Linked DNA regions of Homo sapiens: region 2 is linked to region 1. The links come from fine-mapping of genetic effects on gene expression. A gene starts in region 1. The other region holds a variant in brackets. All regions are shown on one strand. Distances are from middle to middle. Region 1 holds the start of GSDME (gasdermin E). Region 2 overlaps OSBPL3 (oxysterol binding protein like 3).

What was found. PIP is the estimated chance that this variant, and not a neighbour inherited with it, causes the effect. A credible set is the group of variants that fine-mapping cannot tell apart.
Region 2: its variant is the best candidate, but not a certain one, in a credible set for the expression of GSDME in lung (GTEx, PIP 0.50).

Annotation. Positions count from the first base shown.
Region 1 is chr7:24,755,870-24,758,882 of GRCh38, reverse strand. GSDME (gasdermin E) reads left to right here and starts at 1,419. Exons shown (of 10, transcript NM_001127453.2): 1 at 1,419-1,487. LOC124901820 (translation initiation factor IF-2-like) reads left to right here. Exons shown (of 3, transcript XM_047421177.1): 2 at 946-1,221; 3 at 1,314-2,559. The coding sequence ends at 2,027. RefSeq lists silencers at 270-419, 1,230-1,809, 1,820-1,869 and an enhancer at 920-1,149.
Region 2 is chr7:24,814,144-24,816,643 of GRCh38, reverse strand. It overlaps OSBPL3 (oxysterol binding protein like 3), which reads left to right. Exons shown (of 23, transcript NM_015550.4): 18 at 1-34; 19 at 1,441-1,585. Among named protein-coding and RNA genes, the nearest start is that of GSDME, 58 kb to the right of the region's middle. The variant C/T (reference allele first, on the strand shown) is at 1,498.

The DNA.
Region 1 (3,013 bases):
CAAAACAGACCAGCTGCCCTCATGCTGCTGACATTTTACAGGAGAGGATAATACATGAAATAAGAGGCACACAGTCTATCAGATGGTGGTGAGTGCAAAGAGAAAAATAAAGCAGAGGAGGAACTAGGAGGTGTTCCCGTGGGTGGGTGGGCAGCACTTTTAATTTGGATAGTCAGGAAAGGCTTTACAGTGAGGTGGATAATTGCAATCTAGAGATATGTTTAAAGCATAGCGGGGCCCAAGGGAAAGCGCTGCCGGGCTTCTCTACCTGCCCTCCCCGAACAGCCTTTAAGACAGCCACACAACTCCATACTGTGTGAGCTCTCGCAGGGCAGAAATTTCATTTTCTCTTACTCTTTGCTCTCAGCTTAGTAGAGAGCATTGCACAGTGAAGACGATACACTGACTGAAAGTGTCACTGAGCAATGGGCTCGTAACCTGAGGCACACAGAAACCAAACTGTGGCACAGGCTTTTGAGAAAAGAAAAACTTCTATTGCCAGTCAACTGGCAAGGAGACAAGAGGCAAAGCTTAAATCTGTCTTCTGGACCTGGGAGCGGGTCAGGCGTTTTTGGCATTTCTAACCAGTCCCAGGTGATGCCAATGCAGCCTTCTGCGGGGCGCGCGGTGTTCACAATTAGAAAGCTTTCCCTCTTGCACACGCCCGGGAGATTTTGGCTCTGCCTCGCTGTAACAACTTAAGTAATGGTTAATCGGTTTCAGCTGGTCCTAATGTTACAAAAAGAGCTAATATTTAAGTCAGTTCATCAGAAAGCAATGTTTGAGCACCAGCTATGCTGAGATTCCCTCGTTCAGTATTCGTTGAGCACCCAGTGTGTGAGAGCGCCTGGTTTTGCCCTCAAGGAGCTTAGAGTGGAGTTTACAGGAATGAATCACTGATTAGCGGCAGGCCTAAGTGTGGGCACTGTCGCACCACACACCCAGATACTACTCCAGGCACGGGCATTAGGGGCTCCCACAGGCTGGACAGGCCTTGGACTTTCCTGGTTGAACCGTGAGGCCGCGGTGTCAGTCCACACTCCACTGTGGGTGGCGGGTTCGGCCCCGCGAGGAGGCGCCGCTCTCAAACCCCACGGTCCCGCGCAGCGAAGAGGCGAGGCGGCCGCGGAAGGCAGGCGCAGCCCACTCTTCCCGAGAGGCCCCGACATCTCCCGGGTGAGTCCCGAAAAGCGCGCGGGGACTCCGGCTGAGCGCTGGGCCGTCAGCAACCCGGCTCCCAGAGAGTCACACGAAGGAGGGGAAGCGGCTCTCTCTGGGGCTTCTGGGAGGTCTGGCCCGGGCCCCTCCCGCAGCCTCCGGCGGCCAGTCCCGCGGCTCTGGGGCGCCCGGACCGAGCAAAGGTCCCGGCGGGCGGGCCCTCTCTCCGCCCTCCCCAAGCGCCCGCCCCCCGCCGGCCCAGCGCAGGCTCCTCCGACTCCGCCAGCGCAGGGGGCGCGGCTGCCGGGGACCCAGCAGCGGGCGCGCGGGTAAGTGCGCGGCGGGCGCGGGCTGCGGGATCCGCTCCGGGCTCCACTCCGGATCCTCTTTGGTCTGTTTGGGTGTCCCGGGCCGGGGGCAGCCGAGGCCGCGCGGCGCTTTCTCTCTGGGCCACCCTCCCCTCGCTCCTTCCTAGGGGAGACGAATCGATTGGCTGCCCGGCCGCCGGAACGGCAGGTCCCGTCGCTCCCCTCGCCTCCCGCATTCCCGGCCCGGTCCCCTCCCATCACCGCGTCCCGCCCCAACTCGCAGTCAGCATCCCCTTCCCATCCTCTCCCCGTCCCCGCTGCCACTTCCTTCCTTGGATGTTGGAAGCGCAGCTGGTATTTTCGTTCTCCCAACCCCCCAAACCCCCCCTCCCCATTCGTTCATCCTTTGTGTTCCGGTCTCTTCTCTGGGTGCTGCGGAGGCTCTCCCGGCTCGGGGGCGTGTGTGCAGGGAGGCGGACCGCGGAACAGATACGGAGTTCAGTCTCTCTGGACGGAAAAAAGTCCCCCTCCACTTTGCTCCGGTATCTAGAGAGCTCCTAGCTTGGGGAGGAGGCCAAGCCCCACTCGGTGTGCCTGGCATGCGCTGGAATGGCTCTCAAGAGCTGCCCGCGTGGCTTCCTTTGGTCTCCATTTGAGGACCTCTGACCCTTTCCAGAGCCGCTTGCCGTCTGCACCCCGAGGGGAAAGACTAGAGGGCACCTCTTAGAAAAGCGCTGGTTGTGGACTGAACACACCGACCACCCACTCCTCCAGAGTCTACTCTGTCCAGAATAGTGAATGGGATAATGAAAGGGATGGATGGCTTGCGGTCGCTGTCCTCGAGACGCAGGCAGGTGGGGCAAGTCCAAGTGGAATGAAAGGAGTGCTGTGGGGTTGGAGAAGCAGCTGAAGAGTGAAATTAATTGTCTTCACAATCTACCACCACCAAGCTCTTTTTCTAAAGGAGAAGTTGAGCCCAGACCATTAGGTAGATCTGAGAGAGAAAGGGCCCAACCCCCTAGCCACGGTCCCTTGGCTAGGTTCTTTGTTATTGTTGAGAGAGGGTCTCGCTCTGTCACCAAGGCTGGAGTGCAGTGGCACTATCCTAGCTCACTGCAGCCTTGAATTCCTGGGCTCAAGGGATCCTCCCATACACCCGTAGCTGAGACCGCAGGTGCCTGCCACCACACCGCATCTTCTCTATTCTTACCCAGACTGCCCTCTGTTACCCACTCCACTTCCCCAAAGCCTTTGGCGCCTCACTCTCCTTCTCCTTTCGAGCTCCTGCCTGTCTTATGACCATCATTGCGTTCACATACCGATTTTTATTTTAGAAAGAAATGATGAAATATTAATTTGTCTTCTCATTAAAAATGAGCTCAGGTACTGGGCTGTAGGGATAGGAAGATAAAAGATGCCACCTCTGTTCTAATTTAATAGACCCAATTGCACTTTGCTATCTAGAAAACTAAAACTAATTCAAAGTATGCTGAAATTGCTAACAATGAGACAAGTAGACAAGTACAGCCATGTTTCGTCTCCCCAGA
Region 2 (2,500 bases), 58 kb before region 1:
TTCCAATTGGCACAACCCATGTGACTCTGCCAGTGTAAGTTCTTCTTCTGTGGTTAAGGAGCTTTATGGAATTTAGGGCCAAGATTTTGCTTTGGGGACAGGATGCCCACCCCCGCCCCCGGCAGTTGCATTGAGTGTGTATTTTTTCTTTTAATCTGTCTGACAGTAGGTTTAAATGTTCCTCCTTTTGGCAAGCTCACTTTTAAAAAATGTTTCTCCCTCAAATGGAAATGCCTCCTGGAGACCAAAGTTCCCTGAATAGATGCTTATTAAAAACTCATTTCCACTTCCTAACAAGATTAAGAATGGTGGTTTTAGCTGGGCGCAGTGGCTCACATCTGTAATCCCAGCACTTTGGGAGGCCAAGGCGGGCAGATTGCTTAAGTCCAGGAGTTTGAGACCAGTATGGGCAACATGACAAGACCCTGTCTCTAGAAAAAATACAAAAATTAGCCAGGCATAGTGGTGGCACGCACCTGTAGTCCCAGCTACTCAGGAGGCTGAGGTGGGAGGATCATTTGAGCCTGGGGAGGTTGAGGCTACAGTGAGCTGTGATCGTGCCACTGCACTCCAGCCTGGGTGAAGGGGTGAGACCCTATCTCAATTTTTTTAAAAAAAGTGTTTTTCCTTTATTATGCTGCTTTGCTATCAAAATCCCTTTTAAGAAAAGTATGGCCTTGATCTGATAGGGATGATTGATACTTATTTATAAAGCAAGATGCTTCTGAGCAGGGACTCTGAAACTGGACTGCCGAGATTCACCTGCTCACTCTGGCACTTACTAACAGCGAATCCCTGGGCAAGTTACTTCACCTTTCTCATCACCAGTTTCCCCATCTAGAAAAAGAGAATAATAAACCACCTACTTCCTAGGGCTATTGTGAAGATTAAACAGATAATATACATGAAACACCTAAAATAGTACTTAGCACATTGCATATGTTTTGTAAGTATCTGGTCTTATTATTAATACCATTTTCCTCGTAATTATTGAATTCCATAAGTAATATCTGAATACTTTCTCATCACAAAGGATGCAGGCAATGTATGTTTAGCAGATTGTATAAAACCTTCATCCCTTTCTCAAGCTTCCCTTTCCTAGTTCAGCAACATTAGACAAGCCCCTCTGGCTCTGAATTGCCTCCTCTGTCAAAGGAGGGAGTGGGCTGTTCCAAGAGACCACCAGCTTCTAGTGAAGCCTCTGGTAGCTTCCAGAGTGCAAAGTCTGAATGCTGTCATTCTCTGTGGCATGCATGCCTCCTTGGAGAGTGGAAGCTCCTAGAACATCCAGTGTGACATAGACACTTAGCCAGTGTTGCTTCTGTGAATAAAGAGATGAATAATGCATTGCATGACTTATTTTATAAAAGAGCAGAGTTTGTTTGCATTTGCTGCTGGCTCTTCTAGAAATTGGTACTTCTACTTTTTCCTTCTTTTTAGTTTTGGGGATCATTTTGAGTGGAACAAAGTGACCTCTTGCATCCATAACATCTTAAG[C/T]GGGCAGAGGTGGATTGAGCACTATGGAGAGATTGTCATCAAGAACCTGCATGATGATTCCTGCTACTGCAAAGTGAATTTTATAAAGGTAACTCCAGTGACTCTCTGAGCTCTGACCCTGGAAGGGCTGTGGCAGAGCCAGGGCCCCAGAGCACAGGGCATTTGAGAGATTTTTCGCCTTCACCTTTATGCCAGCAGGCAAGCAATGCCTGAGCTCCTTGGTCCCAGCTGCACCTCTGTCACCTAGACCAGGGCAATGGCCCCTCCTGGCCTCTTACTCCCCTAAGGTCTGTCCTCCATACAGCAGCCAGAGAGACCCTTTTAAAACATAAATCACTGTGCTGCAGTATGTATGCACCTTGACAGCATTATGTTGAGTGAAATAAGTCAGCCCCAAAAGGACGAATATTACATGATTCCACTTCTGCGAGATCGCCAGAGGAATCCAGTTCACAGAGAAAGAAAGCAGAATGGTGGTCGCCCGGGGCTGCAGGAGGGAGGAAGGGGGAATTAGTGTTGAATGGGTATAGAACTTCAGTTTGGGAAGATGAAAAAGTTCTAGAAATAGATAGTGGTGATGGTTGCACAGCATTGTGAATGTATTTAATGCCACTGAATGGACCCTTAGAAATAGTTAAAATGGTCAATGTTACATTAGGTATGGTTTACCAGACTTTTTTTTTTTTTAATGTCATGCTGTATCATTCCTTTGAGCAAAATCCCCCAACAGCTTCCATCTTTCTCAGAGTTGAAGCCTGCATCCTTATGGTGGCCTGTCGGGCGCTGCACAGGCTGTACTCCCCATCTCCACCCTTTCACACACATACTTGCACACTTGCAGATACACCCATATACACACACGCCACCTCGTTCCTCTCCAACCTGAACTTCTCTTTTTCCTCCCTCTTTTTCCCCACTGTCCTCTGGCCACACTGGCCTTCTTTCTCTTTCTTCATTTCCTTCTGCTTGGGCAGCTGTCCCCAGATCCTTCCATCACCAGCCC